Homo sapiens: one gene and its partners. The protein of the gene in region 7 purifies or fractionates together with the protein of the main gene of each other region. This does not show direct contact. Each region holds a gene or a part of one and is shown on either strand. Other genes may lie near its edges.

Evidence for each region.
Region 1: the proteins of ICAM1 (region 7) and FAM118B purify together in Homo sapiens (affinity purification with mass spectrometry; 2 studies listed by BioGRID and IntAct, with this or other methods). This does not show direct contact.
Region 2: the proteins of ICAM1 (region 7) and WDFY3 purify together in Homo sapiens (affinity purification with mass spectrometry; 2 studies listed by BioGRID and IntAct, with this or other methods). This does not show direct contact.
Region 3: the proteins of ICAM1 (region 7) and GIT2 purify together in Homo sapiens (affinity purification with mass spectrometry; 2 studies listed by BioGRID and IntAct, with this or other methods). This does not show direct contact.
Region 4: the proteins of ICAM1 (region 7) and NT5C1A purify together in Homo sapiens (affinity purification with mass spectrometry; 2 studies listed by BioGRID and IntAct, with this or other methods). This does not show direct contact.
Region 5: the proteins of ICAM1 (region 7) and ARHGEF6 purify together in Homo sapiens (affinity purification with mass spectrometry; 2 studies listed by BioGRID and IntAct, with this or other methods). This does not show direct contact.
Region 6: the proteins of ICAM1 (region 7) and HEATR6 purify together in Homo sapiens (affinity purification with mass spectrometry; 2 studies listed by BioGRID and IntAct, with this or other methods). This does not show direct contact.

Annotation. Positions count from the first base shown.
Region 1 is NC_000011.10:126,218,282-126,221,781, reverse strand, and holds part of FAM118B (protein FAM118B), read right to left. Parts: intron 1-3,500. UniProt on the Homo sapiens protein: May play a role in Cajal bodies formation.
Region 2 is NC_000004.12:84,816,691-84,820,190, forward strand, and holds part of WDFY3 (WD repeat and FYVE domain-containing protein 3), read right to left. Parts: intron 3,497-3,500; coding exon 3,395-3,496; intron 896-3,394; coding exon 702-895; intron 1-701. UniProt on the Homo sapiens protein: Required for selective macroautophagy (aggrephagy). Acts as an adapter protein by linking specific proteins destined for degradation to the core autophagic machinery members, such as the ATG5-ATG12-ATG16L E3-like ligase, SQSTM1 and LC3.
Region 3 is NC_000012.12:109,933,869-109,937,368, forward strand, and holds part of GIT2 (ARF GTPase-activating protein GIT2), read right to left. Parts: intron 218-3,500; coding exon 154-217; intron 1-153. UniProt on the Homo sapiens protein: GTPase-activating protein for ADP ribosylation factor family members, including ARF1.
Region 4 is NC_000001.11:39,662,108-39,665,607, forward strand, and holds part of NT5C1A (cytosolic 5'-nucleotidase 1A), read right to left. Parts: coding exon 3,414-3,500; intron 1,328-3,413; coding exon 1,205-1,327; intron 1-1,204.
Region 5 is NC_000023.11:136,770,933-136,774,432, forward strand, and holds part of ARHGEF6 (rho guanine nucleotide exchange factor 6), read right to left. Parts: intron 1-3,500. UniProt on the Homo sapiens protein: Acts as a RAC1 guanine nucleotide exchange factor (GEF).
Region 6 is NC_000017.11:60,076,122-60,080,317, forward strand, and holds the start of HEATR6 (HEAT repeat-containing protein 6), read right to left. Parts: upstream 2,801-4,196; 5' UTR 2,794-2,800; coding exon 2,575-2,793; intron 117-2,574; coding exon 9-116; intron 1-8. UniProt on the Homo sapiens protein: Amplification-dependent oncogene.
Region 7 is NC_000019.10:10,281,120-10,284,117, reverse strand, and holds part of ICAM1 (intercellular adhesion molecule 1 precursor), read right to left. Parts: intron 798-2,998; exon of another isoform or gene 668-797; intron 638-667; coding exon 332-637; intron 86-331; coding exon 1-85. UniProt on the Homo sapiens protein: ICAM proteins are ligands for the leukocyte adhesion protein LFA-1 (integrin alpha-L/beta-2).

The DNA of each region.
Region 1 (3,500 bases), on a different chromosome or scaffold from region 7:
TCCTCCCTCCCCTCTAGTGGGAGGTCTTCCCTGTTTCCTAAATGCTGAGGATCCGCAGGGCTCTCCAGTCTATTCCCTTTACATACTCCCTTCCCTTCCCACCCCATTCACCCCTAGATATTAAAATACCAACTAAACGCTAAGGACTCCCAAAACGCTACCTTCAGTTCAGATCTCGGTGGTGCTTCAGGCCCAGGAGATAGCCATGTAAGTTTCAGTCAGGCAGCCCTTCAATATTGAAAGGTACTTTCAGACTGTACTTCAAACTTAAAAACCAAAAAACCGTTCAACAACCTGCTCCTTATCCTAAGTTATACAGATCTCTGAATAGTAGAAATAAGCTATGTGATAATATTTATAGGCCATTATTTCTTTCTTTCTGTTTTAAGCACCAACATATGTATTTACTGATTTTGGAAAAACTGTCATATACTTCAGAATAATGTATTTGGATCATTTCTAAACAAGAGAATATGAACCAAAGGGAACCCAGGGAAGAAAGTAAATCTGTAACCTTAAACTAGCATGATATTCTTTTCAGGATATTCTCTTTTTCCTAATAAAAATTAGCCAAAAATTAATATTGTTTTTCTTTGAGATGGAGTCTTACTCTGTCACCCAGGCTGGAGTGCAGTGGCTTGATCTCAGCTCACTGCAGCCTCTGCCTCCCGGGTTCAAGCTATTCTCCTGCCTCAGGCTCCCAAGTAGCTGGGATTACAGGCCCACGCCACCATGTTTGGCTAATTTTTGTATTTTTAGTAAAGACAGGGTTTCACTATGTTGGCCAGGCTGGTTTCAAACTCCTGGCCTCAAGCGATCCACATGCCTTGGCCTCTCAAAGTGGTGGGATTACAGGCATGAGCCACTGCGCCCGGCCTACTATTCTCTTTGATCTGAAGATGAACTGAGAGCTGAAAAGCACTGTTTAGATCTGAAATAAGAATCTGAAAGCTCTTAAAAAAAAAAAGGCATTATTTGTCACAGAAGCCATCAGAACAACTACAAAGACCAGGTTTCTTAGGAGAAATAGCTCTAAAAACATGGTTTTGCCAAGCAGGTAGCATCAGTCTTTTTTGTTTGAGACAGTCTTGCTCTGTTCCCCAGGACGGCAAGATCATGGTTCACTGCAGCATCAAACTCTGGGGCTCAAGGGATCCTCCTATCTCAGCCTCCTAAGCAGCTGGGACTACAGGTGCGCACCACCACACCTGGCTAATTTTTAAATTTTGTTGTAGAGATGGGCTCTTGCTATGTTGACCAGGCTGATCTTGAACTCCTGGCCTTGTCAAGCAATCCTCTTGCCCTGGCCTCCCAAAGTGTTGGGATTACAGGCATGGGCCACCAAGCCCAGCCAAGCATCAGTCTTAAAAAAAAAGTGGCCAGTGAAAACAATTGAGGGTATTAAAAAAAAAAGAGAGAGAGAGAAAACAGAAAGCAGGTTAGGGAGACTAAAAACATACTTTCATAAGGAAGTGAAGGAGGTCAGTGGAAGACCAAGGAGGACTCTCAGGGAGCAGCCAGAAAGCTGGGCAGCCTGGGCCCAAGGGAGGCAGGTGGAGACTTCATTCAGAAAAAGAGAGCACCTTTCCCCCAGATTTGAAAGTAACAGATCACTGCAGGAAATATGCAGAAAGAGCAAAATGAAGCCCCCCTTCCTCCAACGTGGAGCTAACCACTGCTGACATTCGGATTTATGTGGAGAAAAGCAGTTTTTAAGAGGAACTCTCGGAATAAGTCTGAGTATCTTGGGTTCATGTTCATATCAATTCTAAAAACTTCATTCATTAGAGTTTGCCCCTGCTTTCACACCATAAATCTCCATACATATAAGCCCCCCCTTTAAAAAAAATTCTTCCTTCAATGTCTTATTAAAATTAACTTAAAAAAAAAACTCAAGCAGCTCGAGCTGCTTTTTTTTTTTTTTTAAGTTAATTTTAATAAGTACAGTAGTGCATGTTTTCTGCAGTAGAAGAAAGAAAGAAGCAGTCTATTTCTAGTGGCTGGGGGTAGGGAGGTGCTGGGGAAGAGCAGGAACCTAGGAAGAGTCAGCAGAGGGTAGCCACGCCCCAGCCCCATGGACGAGACTCCTGAGGAATCCATAAAACTGCGAAGTACTAAGTTCTGGCAACAGATCTCAAACCTGCTCCTTAGCAAGAGAGCTAAAAAGAGAGTGTTTCTTATGTACTCTGTTAATTTGACTCTTAAGGCATATAAACAATAGGGAGACCCTGTCTCTACAAAAATAAAAAACTTAGCCAGATGTGGTGGCATATGCCTATGGTCCCAGCTACTTGGGAGGCTGAGGTGGGAGGATTGCTTGAACCCAGGAGGTCGAGGCTGCAGTGAGTCATGATCATGCCCACTCCAGTCTGGGCAACAGAGAGAGACTCTCAAAAAAAAAAAAAAAAAAAAAAAAAAAAAAAAAAAAAAAAGATAAACAAGAGCTGAAGGATAAGCTTCCAAAATAAACGAGGAAAACAAGAAATCTGTGCTTTTCCTTATGTGATATTCCTGTGCTGCATTCCATGACACTAAGAATATAAAACATGATAACTTCTGTCCTTACGTGTTTACTTCTTAATCTTTTTCAAAGTACGCTATTAAAATGGCAACAGAGGAGTTTTTCTTTTTTCAAGGTATAAAACCAAGAATGTGAGGTGCAGGAGATAAGCATTCAATTTTTCAATGAATTTTTGGAGATGGAAAGCAAGCTTTAAATGCAGATCTGAAAATACGGATTGGCATAAAGTCTATTTAACTAATGCGCAAATTCTCTTCCTCACCTCCTATTTTCATCTATTTTCTCCACCCCCAAATCCAGAGGTTTAAAGAAAAATGAACCGAAATCTGAAATGGGTCTGGAGTAAAATACATCAGCAGGAGCAATGAAGAACTGAAAATACAGATTATGTCAAAAGATGCATACTAAAAGGTTCTCCAAGCCTCCATCCTTGTCCCAGCAACCAATGCACTGTCAGCTAAAGAAATATTAGCAAACATATACATTTGTACAAACATACACACAAAATCCATATATACCAGCCACCCTATAGTAATGGCCACCACCCAACAAGACCCACGCTGGGAACTTAAAATAACAAAAAACAAAACAGAAATGAACAGTCAGAATCATGAGACATTCAAAGAAATCCCACAATAAAATAATTCATTTATTCCTTAAGTTATTAAGCATCTATTCATCGCCAGGCACTGTTTCAGAGGCTGGAATTATAGAGGTAAACAAAAAAAAACCCAAAATCCCTGCCCTCATAGAATGTTTATTTTAGTGGTGAGGGAAACAAGTAAATAAATATGTGGGATGCTAGATGGTGGGAAATGCTTCTGGAGAGAAACAAAGCAGGGAAGTGAGATGGGGGTCTGCACTTCTCAATCCAGTGCTCTCTTCACTGAGGTGACATTTAAGGAAAGACTTGTGGATTCATCCAAAGTGAGGTGTGGGAGCAAGTCGCTGGATATCTGAGGGAAGACACATCCAGACA
Region 2 (3,500 bases), on a different chromosome or scaffold from region 7:
GATTCTAAAAATTTCTTACATATCATTTCTTATAATATCAATAACCAGTAATATGGGAGAATGTGAGTGTATAAATCTGTATAAAACAATGGTGCTGTGGAAATAAAACGGGTATTGAAATCTGGGGGTCGGTTCTACTAATTAAAAGTCACTTAAGTGAACAAAATCCATGTTATATGATTTCTCTAAACCTAAGTTTTCTCATCTGCAAAACAGGGTGCTACTTAATTTATAGTATTACTAAGGAGTAAATGATAAAAGCATATGTATAACTCCTGGTATATTGTTTGATATCTACTAGAATATCCATTACTTACATACATACATATATGCATGCATGTGTATAAAATGCCAAATCTAACATTCATTTCACAGATGCATAACACTATGAGTGAATTTAACTGATCAGAAAATACATATATTTAGTATTAATTAAGATCCTATACTTCACTAATATTTAATTTAAGAGTTCCAGTAAGTCAAGATAATTACTGAAAAGGTTTATCAGCAGAAGTAAAATATATACTGAAAGACATAAATGACTGGAGTTTTTCCAAGTTCCTAACGTGTACAAAGTTGTGAGGTTTCTTGGGTAATTTGGATTTTTTTTAATTTCCCTGTCTCTAACTTAAATACAGATCATCTAAAAATAACCACAGATTTTAGTAGTAAAAGAAGGGAAACACATTTATCAAACTTACCCTTAAAATATCAGTCTTCAACTGCAATTCCGTCGGTGGGGCTGAATGCATTAGCCCCAGGAGAGTGCCCATGTCATCGTCCCCATTTGGGGAGAGCACCAGCTGTTGGATAGTCATCAAGGCATGCTGCCGGCATTGAGGGTACTTTACTATATTATGTGCACATCTTGCACCTCCAAATTCTCGAAAAATTCCTTGAAGGAAGGAGAAAAAGTCCAACAATGGCTACTTTAAAATATTCTGAGACAAGTCAGATGAATTAACATTCAGTTATTTTTTGTAGGTAAAGTAACTCATAATAATGTAAATAAAACCTACCCAACTATTTCACCTTTTAAATTACAATACAAATTTGCACAGTGGGTTGTCAGCAAAGGTATATGCAAATTTTCTCTACATTTCCTTAATGCAAGATTAATGCCGTGATATGTTCACCATGTCCAAGCTCTCAAAATCTAGAACATTCACAAGTCTCTTAGGCAGACCCTAGGAGACTCTCTATTGTAATCAACTTATGTAAAAGGCTTTCAGAGGAACAATAGCCTAAATAAAGGAGATTTAAATGAACATGGCTTCCAAAATAGTAGCAAGAAAGGAATGGAATAAATTATTCCACCATGGGAAAAATTACAAGGAACCAACATGTTTTGTTGCACAGGTAGAGCATAAGAACAAAAAGTGACAAATTCTGTAACAGAAGTATGTGTCATTGTTACTGCTCCAAAGCCTTTACACAGATTGACTTACTTAATACTCATCCCCTACCATATAGAGGTAAGGCGGTCAAAGTCATACAGCTAGTAAGCAACAGAAAAGGATGTATGCCTACATAGCCCAGCTCTGTAAGCCTGTGCTCCTGCTCACAAGTGATACTGTTCTCACATCAAATATTAATATCATCCTCCAGTATTAAAAAAATGGGCCCAGTGACTGAAATCACTAATTAGTATTTCCTCTAAGTAATTCTTCTATCCCTTACGTTTTTAGGGCATCTTGTTTATATCTCTATTATGGTTTATAACAAACAGTCTTACTATTATTGCTTATGTTTGGTCTTCCATGACTACTGGATTTTCTCCTGATTTGTGTTTCAATAAACGTTTACTAAAACAGTGTATTCTGCTATAGCAGCCACTGTCCTCTCTGCTTAGTGGCTTTCTATTTGTTAACTTTATAAAAATTATAAGATCATGAAGTCAGTCTAAGCCATGTGCTTGAGATTCAGCACATGGAATTTGTGACATCCTTTCATTACCTGAAGGCCTGTTTAGTTACCTCCTGGTTGTCAGTTAGGACCCACTAGATAATCATAATGGCTAATATTATTTAAATACTTAAACTATGAGTAAAGTACTGTTTTAAATGCCTAACATCACACAGCTAGTAACATCTTTCATACTGGGAAAAGAAAAACTGAAAAGAATTGTATGAAATTGTTTGGCACTTTGGGATATGTACTAAGTGACTTTTAGTCGTGCAGAGTAAGCTCTCCAATTGTCCAATCTCTTCCTGTGCAACTTCTAGGTCGTCTCAAGGAAAGCTAATTTGCTAAGCAAATTCCTGTTAGTCTATCTTCATTATGTTTCTGATTATCTCAGTTAACTAAACCTAGTTAGTGGAAATAAGATTATGCATTATGCCATAGACAAAATGTTACTATAGTATCCACTAAAATTCATCATACTCATTGTTTCAATTACCTGTTAAATTCATTCAAGTCTATCTTAGCATTTGCCAAATTTGTATCAGACTAATTACTTCTATAATTATGTGTCTACATTTTTCTTCACTAGATTCTAATTCCCAGGGAGCAAGAATGATCTTACCTTAGCATCTAGGTGTTAGAATAATCTAACACCTAGCTAGCATGGTACCTGGGATACACAATATATTTTAAATATGATGAATGCTGAGTTTCCCTGCATTCAGGCAAACAGTCATGCATTTGGGCATGGGGTTCATTCATCCATGGCTTTCCATAACACTTAAAATATATTTCAAGCTCCTTACCATGGCCTAAAAAGCTCCCTATGATTTGAGCCCAGCCTACTAATCTGAACTCATTATTCCTCTCAAGTTGTACTGAACTTATTACCTGAGAGTTGTTTGATGTTAATTAAAATCTCAAGTAATCTTTTTTAAAAAGCAAGAGTGATATTTTATAAATATAGTTAGGTTATCTGTTAATGACAGGTAGAAAAGTATAAAAGAGAAATTGAGACCAAAATTAAACAAAATATTTAGTAAAGTTAATTAACCTTGGAGAGATTACGTTTTATTAGAGAATCATTGTTCAGTATTTCCTGAAGGTTGTAACATTATAATACTCTAACTTGTAGTACTAAAAATATTCTTTAAATCACTGTGTAAAGAAAATATTTTAGAAAGAATTTAAATAGCAACTTATTTGAGTAAGAGTGTATCAATAAAAAATTAGAAGAATACTTTCAACACAAGACACTATAAAAAGCAATTTAAACATCATTTTGAAATAGTAACAATCTTATATGTTTTGTCATCAAGGTGCTCCTGATGGTCAAAAGCACTGCATTTTTAGGGACATGACGGGTACCATCACTGAATCAATAGTTTTTTCTCTAAAGTGACAGGAAGATTTCAGAAGCAAGAATAACCACAGAAGATGTAATCAGTGGTAATCTCCCAAAGTATTTGCTTGCAGCTTTTTAAATTACCTGCATTTGTGTTTGATCCTTGAAGAAGCACTGTCAAGGTCTCCATAACCAATAAAGCCAGGTGTTTTTGGTCTTCAACTGAACTATTATTTCTTGAGTCCCCTAA
Region 3 (3,500 bases), on a different chromosome or scaffold from region 7:
GGGGTTACAGGCGTGAGCCACCACACCCGGCCTCGACTGCATATTTTAAAACTGCATGTGCTACAAAAAAGCTAATGTAATATATAGGTCATAAAGAAATTTCTTGCTGTTCATTTAAAAGGATTTAAACCAAGTGAGTAGGAAGTGACTTACTTTGGGGAATAATGCTGCCATTTCTGTAACAGCTACGTGTATCCTCTCTGAGCAGGGAATATAACTGCAAGAATATTGAAGAAGTTATTCAATGACAGTAAAAATGATTCGGAGGCAAAGAGGACTCAAGTGCTAGAACAGATTCTGTTTACATTCCCTTCATGAAGGGGCTAGGGCTGCAGTCAGCCGTGCATCCCACACCACCAGAGGGCACATGGTTATAAAGCAGGACTCTCATTGCTTCCTAAAAGTTCAATCTGATGAAAAGTCTCCAGGTATGAAATATGGCAACATACACTCTTGGTCAGGTGAGGCCACACAACAGTACAGAAACATAATTCACCCCTCCTCACGTCAGTCATTTACTTCTCATGTGTTTCATCGTCCCAATTTCTAGAAAGAGAAAGGATTTCCATGCAAAAGGCCACAGAAGTGAAAAATAAAGGACTGAAAAAATTCCTTAAAATTAGAATTGGAGTCTCTCAAGTAGCTGGAACTTCAGGCATGCACCGCCATGCCTGGCTGATTTTTAAATATTTTTTTGTAGAGGAGTCCCACTATGTCGCCCAGCCTTGTGTTGAACTCCTGGATTCAAGTGAATCTCTTGCCTCAGCCTCCAAAGTGCTGGGGTTACAGGTGTGAGCCACGGTGTCCAGCCCTTTCCCCATTTTTTAAACCATGAAGTTGGCTTCTGAATAGATTGTCATAAGCAACTTATGCACTTCACCTTTGTAACAAGTCTAGTTTCAAAACTATTATAATTAAAACTGTCGGCCGGGCGCAGTGGCTCACGCCTGTAATCCCAGCACTTTGGGAGGCCAAAGCGGGCGGATCACCTGAGGTCAGGAGTTTGAGACCAGCCTGAACGACATGGTGAAATCCCGTCTCTACTAAAAATACAAAAAAATTAGCTGGGCATTGTGGCGCATGCCTGTAATCCCAGCTACTCAGGAGGCTGAAGCAGGAGAATCGCTTGAACCCGGGAGGCAGAGGTTGCAGTGAGCCAAGATTGTGCCACTGCACTCCAGCCTAGGGGATAAAAGCGAGATTCCGTCTAAAAAAAAAAAAAGACTGCCTACATTTTAAATTAAACCATTACATTTCAAGAAAATGGTTTATAGTATCCAAAAATGCCTTCATTGGAAATCCTGACTTCTACCTTTGTGAGCAATTAGAATCACAAACCATTTAATAACAAAAATTCCAACATATATGGAGTTATTTAACTTGTAAATATGAAGGGGCAACAACCTATCTGGTCACACAGATTTCAGAAAGAGAAAAAAGCAATGTCCACAGCCGTCACATGTATCATGCATACTAATAAACTGTGTGTCTGTTAATATCACAGTGACTGAGAACCACACTGAAGTTTTTTTTTTGAGATGGAGTCTCGCTCTGTCGCTCAGGCTGGAGTGCAGTGGTGCAATCTCGGCTCACTGCAACCTCCGCCTCCTGGCTTCTCCGCCTCCCGGCTTCAAGCAATTCTCCTGCCTCAGCCTCTCGAGTAGCTGGGATTACAGGTTTGCACCACCACACCCGGCTAATTTTTGTATTTTTAGTAGAGATGGGGTTTCACCATGTTGGTCAGGCTGGTCTTGAACTCCTGACTGATCCACCCGCCTTGGCCTCCCAAAGTGTTGGGATTACAGGCGTGAGCCACCGCGCCCAGCCAGTGAAGAGTTTTATATTTTGTTGTTTATGGTTTCATTTTTGAGAAATACGATTCACCCTTTCCTCCTGCTACACAGAGAAGGAATCTTTCCTAAGGCCATCTCTCAAAAGCTCACTCATTATGAACTATTTGGGGAAGTCCTCCACACGATAGAAAAGCGAGCACACCCGGATTAATGAGGAAGCCCTCCTCCTCTAACAGGAGTCCATATTCACAACTTCACATTGGTATCTTTCCTCAAAAAGGTTTTCGTGCATAATATGTCATAATCCCTGAATTGTATGTGTGCCTGTGTGAGGGCAGGAGTGAGGCTGGAGGCCCAGGAGACAAGACCAGACTTCAGGAAGGTCAGGGGCTGGGGTTGCTTACATGGATCAAGAGGAGAAAACAAGAGAAAAAGGCATGGGTTTAATTCGTACAATTCAAGATGATAAATAAAAGCATCTTGAATTTTAATATAGGATTGAACAATTTATGAAATATAAATTCTCTAGACCAATTATGGTTTTAAACCAAAAGAATGAGCTAATGATTAAAATCTCTGCATCATTCTCTCATGGTCTTAAAAAAAAAAAAAAGGAAATCAGATCATTATATGTGTTGTTGAATGGATTTGTAAATTTTAAACAAAGAAAGAAAAAAAAAAGAAATTTCCCAAATTGTACCAAGCACCATATTGCATCTTTGAAGTAGAAATGGCCTCAGGGCAGATATTTGTATTTTTGACAAAGACAGCAATATAAGGCAAGCACATTTTAGTTTGAAATACAAGCACAGCACTTCTGAACTAGAGGAAATGAAAAGCGAAGCACATTGACAAATGGGGTCACGGTGCTCGGGAAGAAAGTGTTATTGAATCATGATTACATTAAACGCTGTCAAAAACTTTGGCCAAGCACGGTGGCTCACGCCTGTAATCTCAGCACTTTGAGAGGCTGAGGCGGGTAGATCACTTGAGATCAGGAGTTCGAGACCAGCCTGGCCAACATGGTGAAACTCTGTCTCTACTAAAAATACAAAAAAATTAGCTGGGCATGGTGGCATGCACCTGTAATCCCAGCTACTTGGGAAGCTGAGGCAGGAGGATCGCTTGAGCCAAGGAGGCGGAAGTTGCAGTGAGCAAGATCGTGCCACTGCTCTCCAGCCTGGGTGACAGAGCAAGACTCTGTCTCAAAAAAAAAAAAAAAAGCTCTGTACTTTGGAAAGCCATGGGACACTTTGCTTTCTGTAATCAAATATGAAGTCACTCACTGCCAAGACTATGGTCCTGAGCAAAGTGAGTGTGCTTGTAACCCGTGGGGTCCCAAAGGCATGGTATGAAGAGAATGCCTGGGAAAGGAGGGAGGAGGAAGCCAAATAATTAGACAGTTTTTATCGAAGGAGGCTTAAAAGTTATGCATGTTTCTCTTTTTCTCTGAGGAGCTTCCAGCAGTCCCTCCAGAAGACTAACTCTTATCTTTCAATAAACATGGATTATTCCCTTCTTTCCTAGTGGGAAATAAGGACACTGGGAGATGTGTGAGCCATATAAAAAAGGGTACAGAAAAGGGAGGTTGGCCCAGTAGTGCCAGGACTACAAAAGGGAATACAAAGGCCCAGATGCATGTTTGTGTGGAAGAAGAAAACAGAGAGAAGAGTAAACAGCACAGCATCCCTTGAATACTTTTTGCTC
Region 4 (3,500 bases), on a different chromosome or scaffold from region 7:
GGGCAACTGGCCGAGCTCATTCCCTAGTCTCCATCTCTTCAAAGACCACTTCAGCCCAACTCTTTGAAAACTGAGGATCACAGAGGCTGGGCTTAGGTGAGCTTTGGGAGGAGTGAGCAGTGCTACCTGCACACAACTTCACTAGCCTGAGGATACTACAAGCAGGGCCAGTGCCAGGCATCAAGCCAGGTACCCTCTCAGCTCTGCCAGCACTGGAATCAAGATGACCCAGAACCACCCCTACCCTCAACAGGGCCTCCCCGTGGACCATTCTCCTGCTCCCTAGCCTGAGGTCAAGTTACAAACACACAGAGGCACACCTACATGCCAGTGCCAAGGCCCCAACCAGAGGGTGTGACATCTGTCTAGGGAAATGGCTCCTGGTTCCTGGTTAAAGAAAGCCTCTAGGAGCTCCCAAGCAGCTCAGGAGAGTGAGTTATCAGGGGGAGAGGGGCCAGGCTTCCAGGCAGGAGACAACATGAAAGAGGAAGAGAAAAGTGAATATATTGTTGGTTGATAAAGAAACTTGCCACTAGTGTTCAGCCTAAGGAACCCTCTCAGGTACCTGGCCAGTCCTTGCTCCTCTATGGGCCTGTTTATCTCATGTGCAATAGGATACGCACCTCGTTGGGAGGACTGAGACTATGGATACCACCCAAAACTGCCCCTCGAAAGACACACATAGAGGGACATTCTCTTTGTCAGTACTTGCATCTGGGTCTCCTAAACTCCCCTAAGCACTGGCCAGCCCAGCTGCTGGAGATGCTGGCCATTCCCCAGACCCCACCACTCAGGCTTTCAGGCTGGACTAGATATGAATCCTCCTTCCCATTGGCCCAGGGCAGGGCAGAGGCTGCCTATGGTCCTACAGGAATCAGAACTCCTTCTGACTTGGAGGAATCATAGAAGAAAGTAGCTTTCTGGGCTGTAGAGAGGGTTTCCATGGAAACAGAAGGCTGGGTGATGCTGAGAAGTAAAAGCATCCATGACACAGTAGGGCCAGATGTAGGAAGATGGAATGGGTAGGGCCTTGGTTTCAGAATTTATAGGACAGATTATAAGAATTAAGGAAAGTATTGCTCAGCCTTGCCTTCTAGTTACCATGGCAACTCCCAGCACCTGCTCGGAACTTCAGGACCAGGCCTCCCACCTCAGGGACCCCTTTGCTGCACTCCCCATATTCTTCCTCTTCACTTAGACTTACCCTCATCAATGGCTTCTCGCACTTTTTCCGCATCGGCTGACAAGTAGAGGTTGGTGTGATAGGCCTTGAGGTAGCAGATCGGGCTGTTCCCACCTGTCATGCAGAACCTCTCGATGAACAGGTCTGGGAAGGAGGTAAAGGACCCAGGTGAGGCCAGGGTCAACCCTGGGCTTCAGGGCAGTCTCTCTGTGCCCAGTGCACACCATCCTAGTTCTGGGTGTGGTACGGCAGCACAGCGTGTCTCAGTGTAATTTTAGGCCAGTGTTCCCCTCTGAGCCCCTCCATCCTTCATGAAATGAGGACGATCACATCTCTAGAGCAATTGCCCAGCTCACAGGGACATCCTCTTGTCAAGGAATCACAGTGCTACATGCCTGTGTGACCCCGCCTCCTGGCCATAGCTGCCATAGCTGATTGGATAAGAGCAGACATCTGGCCCAAGCTGGGCCAATCTGATTACCTAGGCTGCCAATCCGCTGGTCCCCATTACTGCAAAAGTTGTAAAGTATTTGTTGGTTGATAAACGGCTGCTGCTCTGAGCCCATTAAGTTACCCGTCACTCTCGCAGCCCCTTACCCAGGACCTCTGTCCTCTCCAGAGTCCACAACACAAGGCGGTAATGCCTTGTACGGCAGGGGTCCTTCAGGGCCCTGCTTCAGCACTATAGGGAGAGTCTGTCCTGATTACGCAGTGTGTATGTCACACAGGTGGTTAAATATTTTTACGATCAACCCTGCTCCCAAGAATTTGAAATTAGGATTTAAAAATGCCAACTAGACTCTCTTGGTTGCTAAAAACCAGGCCTGGTAAACCTATAAATATAGGTGTATTCTTTTTCTTTCTTTCTTTTTTTTCGTTTTGAGACAGAGTCTTGCTCTGTCGCCCAGGCTGGAGTGCAGTGGCGTGATCTCGGCTCACTGCAAGCTCCGCCTCCCGGGTTCACGTCATTCTCCTGCCTCAGCCTCCCGAGTAGCTGGGACCACAGGCCCCACCACCATGCCCGGCTAAATTTTTTTGTATTTTTAGTAGAGACGCCGTTTCACGGTGTTAGCAATCCAATCTCCTGACCTCGTGATCCCCCGCCTCGGCCTCCCAAAGTGCTGGGATCACAGGTGTGAGCCACCGTGCCTGGCCAGGTGTATTATTTTTCTGTCTCTCTCTCCCCAGAGTGGATTTCTCCTCCTCTCCTCTCCTCTCCTCTCCTTTCCATCTCACTCTGTCACCAGGCTGGAGTGCAGTGGGGTGATCTCGGCTCATTGCAACCTCTGCCTCCCGGGTTCAAGTGATTCTCATACCTCAGCCTCCCGAATAGCTGGGATTACAGGTGTGCGCCACCACACCAGGCTAATTTTTGTATTTTTAGTAGAGACAGGGTTTTACCATGTTAGGCTGGTTTTGAACTCCGGACCTCAAGTGTTCCACCCGCCCTGGCCTCCCAAAGTGCTGGGATTACAGGAGTGAGCCACCGCACCTGGCCTGCTTTTCTTGAATACGGTTTTTATTTAGGAAAAGCAGAGAAATCCAATTTCAGGGGAGAGAGGAAAAAAAAAAAGAGCAAACTTGCTAGAGAAGCACAAATAAAGGTTCATGTGGCCTGAAGAAAAGAAGAGCCGGGAGAGATTTCTAGTACTTGGATTCAGGTCTTTGTAGGCCCAATTTTATTTCCTGCCCTCTGAAAGACACCCCTGTAACCTAATAAAAAATTCTCCTGGGCTTAAGCTAGCTCTGGAGGGGCTATTATTTTTAACCTTGAGTTTAGAATAAGACACAAAGCCCTTTCACTCTGACAGCTGCACCTGATTCTCCCAGCAGCCTTGTGAGGCCTGTTAGCCCCATCACAGTTAGAGAAACTGAGGCAGGGAGGCAGTAACTGTCTCACCTAATCACACGGAGAGTGGGGTGTGCTGGAGCTGGCTTGGACTGGCTTGCAAGAGCCCACAGTTAAACATTCAGAAATTTTGTGAGCCATTTGTGTTGTTCAACCACTGACAGCTTGAAACCAGTCCTGGTGGAAATATTTTACACCTGAAAACTAGCAACACTACAAGTCAGGGTTTTGTTTGTTTGTTTAAAGAGCGAATTTACCAGCACACACTGGACTTGGGGTTCTGGTCAGTACAACTCCATCCTGCAGAGGTGTGGCCCCATCCCTGGGGGGTCTGGTAGGGGTGTCCCAGGGCAAACCCCCCATCCTCATGCTCATGCTCACCATAGTGGTTGATACTGTTGATGAGGCGGACACCCACTTGAGCATGGTTGTTAGTCATGAGGACGATGTCGAAGACGTCCTCACTAT
Region 5 (3,500 bases), on a different chromosome or scaffold from region 7:
ACTGCAGTGAGCTGTAATCACACCACTGCACTCCAGCCTGGGCAACAGAGTAAGACCTTGTCTCAAAAAAATAATTATATTTCTATACACTTGCAGTGAACAATTTAAATACCAAATCAAGAAAACAATCCTATTTTTTTATAACACCAAAAATAATAAAATCCTTTGGAATAAATTGAACCAAGCAGGTATAAGACATGTACACTGAAAAGTACATAATATTGCTGAATGAAACTAAAGACAAATAAGTGGAAATACATCCCATAAGACAAATAAGTGGAAATACATCCCATGTTCATGGATTCAAACATTTAATATTATTAAGATGGCAACACTCTCCAAAGCAATCTATAGATTGAACACAATCACTATCAAAATCTCAGCTGGCCTTTTTTGTAGAAATTGACAAGCTGATCCTAAAATTCATATGGACATGCGAGGGATCCAGAATGGCCAAAGTGATTTTGAAAATGAAGAACAAAGTTGAAGGACCCGCTTTTAAAACTTACTACGTAGCTACATTAATCAGTTCAATGGAGGAATTGGCTAATGTTGTCTTTTCAACAAATGTTACTGAAACAACTGGATGTGCATATGCAAAAGAATGAATTTGGACCCGTACCTCCTACCATATACAAAAATTAACTCAAAATAGATCAAAGACCTTAATGTAAGAAGTAAAACTATATTATTCTTAGGAGAAAACAGGAAAAAAATTCTTCAAGACATTTGATTATGAGTTTCTTAGATATGACACCAAAAGCACAAGCAACAAAAGAGATGAATTTGACTTCATCAAAATTAAAAACTTTTGGACAGGCAATAACAAATGCTGGAGAGGATGTGGAGAAAAGGGAACCCTCATACACTGCTGGTGGGAACGTAAATTAATACAACCATTATGGACAGTTTGGAGGTGCCTCGAAAAACTGAAAATTGAGCTACCATATGATCCAGCAATCCCACTGCTGGGTATGTTACCCAAAAGAAAGGAAATCAGTATATGGAAGAGATAACGGCGCTCCTATGTTTGTTGCAGTACTGTTCACAAATAGCTAAGATTTGGAAGCAACCTAACTGTCCACCAACAAATGAATGGATAAAGAAAATGTGGTATGTATACACAATGGAGTACTATTCAGCCATAAAGAAGAATGAGAATCAGTCATTTGCAACAACATGGATGGAACTAGAGATCATTATGTTAAGTGAAATAAGCCAGGTACAGAAAGACAAACATCACATGTCCTCACTTATTTGTGGGATCTAAAAATAAAAACAATTGAACTAATGGGCATAGAGAGTAGAAGACAGGTTACCAGAGGCTGAGAAGTATATTGGGGAAGGAGGCAGGAATGGTTAATGGGTACAAAAAAAATTGAAAGAATGAATAAGGCCCATTTGATAGCACAACAGGGTGACTATAGTCAATAATAATTGTACTTATTAAAATAACTTAAAGAGTGTAATTGAATTGTTTGTAACACAAAGGATAAATGCTTGAGGGTATGGATACCCCACTCTCCATGATGGGATTATTACACATTGCATGCCTGTATCACAACATTTCATGTACCCCACAAATATATACACCTGCTATGTACCCACAAAAATTGAAAGTAAAAAACAAAAATGTCTAATTAATAAATTTTTGTGGGCCAGGCACAGTGGCTTACGCCTGTAATCCCAGCCTTTTGGGAGGCTGAGGCAGGTGGATCACTTGAGGCCAGGAGAGGCTGGACAATATGGCAAAACCCCGTCTCTACTTAAAAATACAAAAATTAGCCAGGCATAGTGGCAGGCACCTGTAATCCCAGCTACTTGGGAGGCTGAGGCATGAGAATCACTTGAACCCAAGAGGCCAAAGTTGCCGTGAGCCAAGATTGTGCCACTGCACTCCAGCCTGGGAGACAGAGCAAGACTCCGTCTCAAACAAACAGACAACAACAACAAAAAAAATTGTGTTACAAAGGACACTATCAAGAAGGTGGTGGGGTGCTTCCGAGAGCACTTTGTTCCCAGATGTCTCAGCAGACTTTCCTGATCAGTTACTAAATGTGTGATCCTCTAAAGACCCTAAGACATTGTAGCCATATGAGAACACACAGATGGGGGTTACTTGGAGAAGCCGACTGGCCACCCAGAGGACCAGAAGGCAACAGCTTTTTTAATGTCGTCACCATGCCCCAGAGCCCAGTACTCAATTTGTCGGTACGGTGCTGCATCTGCGGCTCCATTTTTCTGCATTTCCAAGCTGACAATTTCAAGCCGGTATGCTTTCTTTAGATAAATAATATTGTGTTCTAAGCAACAGTCAAGCCCTGCTCTTCTTGCTTTTTGTACATCTACAGTTTTATAGGGTCAACAAAAATCTATTAGGTATGTCCTATGCCAGGCACTGTGCCAGGCACTTTGGGCCCGAGAGAGACTCTATCCAGGGACATTTGCAAATATTTATGTTTAAGTCTGTCTTCCAGCTACCTGGAAGCTTCAGACAAGATGATGAGTCTTCTTGGCTGCTTCGTGCTCCCCAGCTCAGCTTTCGGTCTCATTCCTTATGTATTGATTTTATTAGTCTTCTTTCTGGGTTCTAGGAGTGCCTCAATATGGCTCCTATATATACCTTACAAGAATAATTTTGCACACAACAATGCAGAGAACATTACCGAGTAATAACACCACAGAAAACAGCTATTGTGTATGCCTTATGTGCAGTGCTATATTAAGTGCCTTGGATGTATTATCTCATTTGATCCTTAAAACAATCATATACAGCAGATACTATTAATGTCTCCATTATACAGATGAGGAAAAAGGAGCATAGAGAGGTCAAGTAACTGTCCCAGAGTTATGCAGCCAGTAATTGACCAAGCCAAGATTCTAATCTAGGTCTGCCAAACTAGAGAAGGCATGTGCTTAACCACGATGTCAGATATTGCCTCATTACAATATTCATATAATGCCCAGGTCAGCATGAATTACCAAAAAGAGATAAAAGTGTTTCCAGTGCCTTTTATTTAAGAAGAGAGAAAATTAAGACATACATTTTAGAAATATTTCTATCTTGTGCTCACTTCAGCAGCCCATATACTAAAATTGGAACGATACAGAGAATATTCATATGGCCCCTGTACGAGAATAACACAAAAATTTGTGAAGTGTCCCATAAAAAAATAAAAGTAATAAACATAATTTTTTTAAACAATAAATATTTCTATCCAAAGTGGAAGAATATTTTAAGCATTGGTGCTTAAAGGAGTAAGCATTAGTTATCAGAAAAATCCTGAACAATGCCTAACCTGGAAGGTGTTTCTGTATCATCCAGTATTCTTAGAACTGCAAAGAAGCTAAGTAAACCTTCTGGCAGCTTTAGAATGCAGAAATCATTGGCAACTTCACCATGTTTTTATTTGAAAAAAAAAAATACCATAGTATTGGCCAGGCGTGGTGGCTCATGCCTGTAATCCCAGCATTTTGGGATGCCAAGGTGGGCAGATCAC
Region 6 (4,196 bases), on a different chromosome or scaffold from region 7:
ATGATTACCTGTAATCTGTTAAGTAAATGGTGGATAAGCTGGCTCACTTTGCTGACAAGATGATTCTGATTAAGAGGTACCAGTCGGCAAGCCTGGACAAGAAGAGCACTAACGTCCTACCAAAAAAAAAAAGATAAGAGGTAAAATACTTATTAGTCAAGTGAAGATCCTCAAAACACAGCCAAATGGGAAAATAAAAGTAAATATTCACATTCAAAATGGGGAAAGAAAATGTGAGGCAGGAAGGAAAAAAATGAAGTGATAGCACAAAAACAGCATGTGCTAAAAAAGAAGGAAAAAGCCAGGCACAGTGGCTCACACCTAATCCCAGTTCTTCCGGAGGTCAAAGCGGGAGGACTGCTTGAGCCCAGGAGTCCAAGACCAGCTTGGGCAACATAGTGAGACTCCATCTCTACAGAAAAAACTTTTTTAAAAAAATTAGCTGGATATGGTGGTATGTAGTCCCAGCTTCTTGGGAGGCTGAGGTGGGAGGATGGCTTGAGCCCAGGAGTTTTAGGTCACAGTGAGCTATGATCTTGCTGCTGCACTCCAGTCTGGATGACAGAGTGAGACCTTGTCTCTTAAAAAAAAGAAAAAAGAAAAAAAAAGGAAAAGAATCAGTACGGTTTTGGTCAGGCTGAAGACTCTGTGCTCTCTATATGTAAAGACAGTATAATTAAATAACCAGAAAAAGGCTTCTAGGGTATGAAAGCACAAACTGAAGCTAAAAATATCAAAAGGTAAGTGAACCAGATTTTCAATGCCATTGGGAAAAATCAGACCTAACACTTCTATGGATTTTATGCATAATTAGGGAATTCTTAAAAAAAAAAAAAAAAAAAGAGGGACCTATTTGCAAGTCACACTCTTCATCCATCGATGTTTATAGAATGACAAGGTTCTGAGCACCTACTATGTGTCATAGTGTGCTAGGTCTTTGGGCTCCAAAGGTAAAACAAACATGTTCCTGAACCTCAAAGAGCTCACAAACTAGTGAGAGAGAAAGAAACACAACAAATAATTAAAATAAGGTGAATCAAGTGCTGAAAGAATAAAGTACAAACTCTGTCCAGAAACAGTAATTAGGGAGGCCTTGTGGAGGTGACTGTAAAGCAGAATCTGGAATGATTTGAAGGATGAGGAGAAATTTGCCAGATAGGGCATCAAAAAACACTGCAAGCAAAGTGGACAGAGTATGCAAAAACCTGGAGGTGTGAAACACTAGTAGGTGCCTGAAGAACAGCAAGTTTTAAATGGCTGCACACAGGAACAAAAGGGGGAGTAACAGGAGAGAATGGAAGTTTTGTTGCAAAAGTATCCAATTACACAAATACAGCAAAAGTCCCCGACTACTGCCTTAATCTCACTCTGCTTCCTAATGACATACACTATTATTCTGTAGTCAATTCTTTCAGACCTTTTACTTTGCATATATAAACACACATATTTTAAAATCCCTCCTCCAGCTTCATACTGATCTCATTCTGTATGAATTGTCCTGCAACTTGCTTCAACCATTTACCAATACGTATTGAAGACTTTTCCAAAGCAGATTTTAAAGTTTATGAACAATTTTTTTTCCTCCTAAAGAAAAGATCATTCTGGCATTGGAGGAATGACTGGCTTGGAGAGGAGCTAGACAGGAGGCAGGAGATCAGTCAGAGGGGATCAGCGAACAGTCCAGGCATAAGTCGCCTTGCCTGAGGTCTAAGGCACTCGCTATGGGAATAGACAGGAGGGGATGAACTGAGAAATATATATGAGACACATTCTGAAATACCTGAGTTGGTCAGGATCTGGGATGAAGGAGGGAAGAACCAGTGTTTGTGTCTGGTGTGACTTGGTGGATGATGCATGTGTGTTGGAAGGTGGGATGGACTGGGGACGGGAATGCGTGTTTGGAGCTAATGAATTTCATCTTTAGGAACTGTCTAGTTTGAGATGCCTGTGCAAGCAGGCAACTTGCACCACTTCCCTCTTTCCTACGTAGGGCCAGAAGGCCATGGTGTCAACAGTTCAGAGAATTCATTAATTTAAGGCCTGATGTGTGTAAGATTACTCAGAAAGACGGCAGAGGGGAGGAGCTAGTGTGTAGGAACAGAAAACATAGGGGCTTTGTGGCAGAGTTTTGTATACTGTATTTTTACGAGCTTCAGTATTTTCATTAGCAAACAAGCCCTAATACTACGCAAGTTCTAAGATTCCCACGTGGTCCGTGTACCATGTACGCAATAAACAGTAGTAATGCATTTTGTCAACCAAGTGTTCTGGGTGCACAGAGAGGGAGTGAAGGAGGGTGCGGGCGGATGGAAAGTTGGTATCAGAGAGGAAACCCGAGGCATTATCAGAGCAGGAGTCGTCAAGTTGGGTTTTGAATGACTCGAGCGTGCCAAGCACTGCAGGGTCTTCCAAATGGAGAACTAAGAATGTGCCAAGGTTGGAGGGGGCACGCCATCCTGAAACTAAATCATCAGGCGCGAGAGTGGGAAGATCAGGGAAAGGCAGGCAGAGGCCACCAGCTGGGTTCCCGGAGGGGTGGGGCCGGGGCCGGGGCCAGCAGGGCGCGCCGCCTACCTCCGGGGCCACGCCACTGCCCTCGCTGTAGTTCTCGGAGATGAGCTGATCGAAGAGCAGGTGGATCTCGGTGCGGGCGGAGCTGCTGTCATCCGGGCGCAGGGCGCAGAGCCTGGCAGACAAGAGGCGAAACCCATTGCCTCGCTCAGGGATTGCTTCCCGCGGTGCCTCCCGCGGCTGCACGGAAGGCCACGAACCGACAACTTGCACAGCAGCCATCTTTTCTACGGGCGGGGGGGGTGGGTGGGGTGATCCCAGGGAAATACTTCCGGGACATCCTCCCGTTCCGCGCGCTCTAGTTCCGAAAGTACCTTTTTTAGACCGGACTGGGGCTCAGAGGGGTTTCCATGACTACGGGACTCCTCCGACCGGTACCCTGCAGATGCTTGTCAGAAATTGGCTTGGAGGCCGGGCTCGGTGGCTGACGCCTGTAATCCCAGCACTTTGGGAGGCCGAGGCGGGCGGATCACGAGGTCAGAAGATCGAGACCATCCTAGCTAACACGGTGAAACCCCGTCTCTACTAAAAATACAAAAAAAAAAAAAAAAAAAAAATTAGCCGGGAGTGGTGGCGGGCGCCTGTTGTCCCAGCTACTCGGGAGGCTGAGGCAGGAGAATGGCGTGAACCCGGGAGGCAGGGCTTGCAATGAGCCAAGATCGCGCCACTGCACTCCAGCCTGGGCGACAGAGCGAGACTCCGTCTCAGAAAAAAAAAAAAAGAAAGAAATTGGCTTGGAGATTTTTCGCCGGCCACTCCTTCTTGAGCCCTGACTGAAAAGTGAGTTCTCAATTTGTGCTTCCAGAAAGTTTGTCCTCCCAGAGTTTGTTCCTGGACAGGGCTGAAGGTACTCTGTTCCGTACTAGAGTTTCAGATTCGGGCTGGAGTTGGAGAGGGTATGCTGTGGATGGCAGTAGCAGAAACCGCTAGTTCTAAGGCACCCTTCTACTCTTCTAAAATCTTTCCCCAGGCACAAAACCACCCGGAATAAAGGCTACGTTCCCTAGCATTCCTTGCAGTTGGCTGTGGCTCTGTGATTGCAATCTGGTCAGTGGAATATAAGGCAGCTTTCCCTACTTAAGTGACAGCTGGCTGTACTCTTGGTTCCTTTTTCTCCCTTTTTCCCAGTGTGAATCCTCTCATGGATCATGAGGCACCTCGCCCCACTAGAAGAGTAATTTTGGAGTTTAACTGAATCATGTAAAATATAATCTGCCTAAGAGTGACCGGGTTGAAATGAGACACCCCAAGATTTTCTGAAACCTTGAAGTCAAGAAGCTGGAGAATAAAATGGCCATTTAAAAATCTGTGATCACTTTTCAGTCATCCAGGAAGTGAAGGCTTGACTTTCACAGTTGGGCAGATTGGGAAAACCATCTCTAGGGCCTTTGAGTTATGCAAATATAAAGCAAATCCTCACCCTTGGCCCTTAGGGAAAACCTTGAAGTCACCTGAATGTATGTTTTATCCTGAGAACAAAACATTTCTGTTCAGCAGTGAAAATTGGGGGTATGCTTTAGCAGAGGTAGTTTTCTGAAGACTTTGGGCTTGGGGAGAAATGTTAATTTTTTTGTTTGGATTTAGATTCCGTTGTGCTGGTATATTATTTCTTATTCCTAGTCTGT
Region 7 (2,998 bases):
CCGTCCAGGGAACAGACCACGGTCCCCTGCGTGTCCACCTCTAGGACCCGGGGGCTGACAAGTTGTGGGGGAGTCGCTGGCAGGACTAGGGAGAGAAGAAAGGTGTGAGCAGACAGGGATGGACGTCCCGAAGCCCTTCTCTGGGGCATTTCATTCCCCCTCCTGCGAGATCCTCTTCCAGGGCCACTCAGCAGCCTAGGTCACATACGCCTAGAACACATGCACCCCTTAGCCGGGGCCACACCCATCTCAAAAGATCCTGTGGCCACAGGCACCGCATTGCAGGATACCCCACCCCCACCTTCTCCCTGCTGGCTTCTTCAATCCTCACCAAAGGTCTGGAGCTGGTAGGGGGCCGAGGTGTTCTCAAACAGCTCCAGCCCTTGGGGCCGCAGGTCCAGTTCAGTGCGGCACGAGAAATTGGCTCCATGGTGATCTCTCCTCACCAGCACCGTGGTCGTGACCTCAGCGGGCTCCCCCACAGCTGGCTCCCGTTTCAGCTCCTTCTCCCCACGGAGCAGCACCACGGTGAGGTTGGCCCGGGGTGCCCCACCCTCCACCTGGCAGCGTAGGGTAAGGTTCTTGCCCACTGGCTGCCAAGAGGGGAGGGGTGCCAGTTCCACCCGTTCTGGAGTCCCTGCAGGAAAACAGAGGTGGGGGTGTCTGGTGAAGTGGACCTTGCTGCCTGCCTAACAGACGAACTGCACCTGCCTGGGAGCCCTACCTCTTCAGTATCTCCCCCAAACACGCCCAGACACCTAAGCAGATAGGAATGTCAAGATCTTCAGTGAAAACTGGTAAGAGGGCCCCGAGTGTTTGTGAAGGGGATCAAAATATTCCTTATTCATGACAGCAGCATCTTAGAGTGAAAAGTGGAAAAGAACTTCAAAGTCTATTGCTAGGTGTCTGGTCAAATAAATTCAGCAGCCCAGTGCACTAGACTGGGCAAACAGTGGCTCGATCTTGGCTCACTGCAACCTCTGCCTCTGGGATTCAGGGGATTCTCCTGCCTCAGCCTCCTGAGTAGCTTAGATTACAGGCACACACCACCACACCAGGTTAATTTTTGTATTTTTATTTTTAATTAATTAATTAATTAAGTTTTTAGACTGAGTCTCCTTCTGTCGCCCAGGCTGGAGGGTGATGGCATGATCTTGGCTCACTGCAACCTCTGCCTCCTGGGTTCAAGCAATTCTCCTGCCTCAACCTCCTGAGTAGCTGGGATTACAGGCACGTGTCACCACACCCAGCTAATTTTTGTATTTTTAGTAGAAACGGGGTTTCAGCATGTTGCCCAGGCTGGTCTCGAATTCCTGACCTCAAGTGATCTGCCCACCCCGGCCTCCCAAAGTGCTGGGATTACAGGTGAAAGTAAATGAGCCTGGCCTAGACATTCTTTAAAAAACAAAACAAAACAAAAAAAAAAACCTGTTGGCCAGGTGTGATGGCTCAGGCTGTAATCCTAGCACTTTGTGAGGCCAAGGCAAGAGGGTCACTTGAGGCCAGGAGTTCAAGACAAGCCTGGGCAACATAGGGAGACCCCCATCTCTAAGAAAAATTAAAAAAAGGTTGGCAGGGCGCGGTGGCTCACGCCTTTAATCCCAGCACTTTGGGAGGCCAAGGAGGGTGGATCCACGAAGTCAGGAGTTCGAGATAAGCCTGACCAACAGAGTGAAACCCCGTCTCTATTAAAAATACAAAAATTAGTCTGGCATGGTGGTGCACGCCTGTAGTCTCAGCTACTCGGGAGGCTGAGGCAGGAGAATCTCTTGAACCTGGGAGGTGGAGGTTGCAGTGAGCTGAGATCGTGCCACTGCACTCCAGCCTAGGTGACAGAGCGAGACTCCATCTCAAAATAAATGAATGAATGAATGAATGAATGGTTAACTGGGTGTGGTGGTGCACACCTGTAGTCCCTGCTACTTGGGAGGCTGAGGCAGGAGGATCACTTGAGCCCAGGAGTTTAAGGCTATAGTGAACTGTGATCATGCCACTGTACTTTAGCCTGGGAAAGAAAGACCCTGTTTCTATTAAAAAAAAAAAAAAGTCAGTAATGACAGAGTCTAATAACAAAAAGGCTGCGTGTGGTGGCTCACGCCTGTAATCCCAACACTTTGGGGGGCCGAGGCAGGCGGATCACCTGAGGTCAGGAGTTCAAGACCAGCCTGGCCAATATAGTGAAACCCCGTCTCTACCTAAAAATACAAAAATTAGCCAGGCGTGGTGTTGTGTGCCTGTAGTCCCAGCTACTTGAGAGGCTGAGGTTTACTTGTGAGGAAAGGATTACTTCAGCCCAGGAGGCAGAGATTGCAGTGAACTGAGATCGCGCCACTGTACTCTAGACTGAGTGACAGAGTGAGAGTCTCTCTCAGAGGAAAAAAAAAAAAAAAAAAAAAGCATCAGGACCGGGGGGGTCCTGCATTTGATACCCAGCCTTGCTTCTTTGCTGTGGGTAAGTGACTTTGTCTCTCTGAACCTCAGTTTCCTGAACTGTAAAATAGGGCTATTAAAGGTAGGAGAATTCACTTAAGAGGTAGACAGAGTCGCTGTACATAAGCAGGAGGTTTCTTTTTTAGAGTGATTGAAATATTTTAAAATTAGATTGTAGTCATGGTTGTTTGTACAGAAGTCATTGAATTATGTGCTTAAAAGGGATGAATCTTATGGTATTCTAAATCGTATCTCAAGAAAGCAAGGCTGGGGCATGGTGGCTCACATCTGTAATCCCAGTACTTTGGGATGCCAAGGCGGGGTCATTTGAGGCCAGGAGTTCAAGGCTAGCTTGGGCAACATTGCAAGACCTCATTTCTCCAAAAAAAAAAAAAAAAATTAAAAACAAGCTGGGCTTCGGCATGGCGTGGTGGCTTATGCCTGTAATCCCAGCACTTTGGGAGGCCAGAACAGATGGATCACCGGAAGTCAGGAGTTCAAGACCAGCCTGGCCAGGCCAGACATGGTGGCTCACGCCTGTAATCCCAGCACTTTGGGAGGCCAAGGC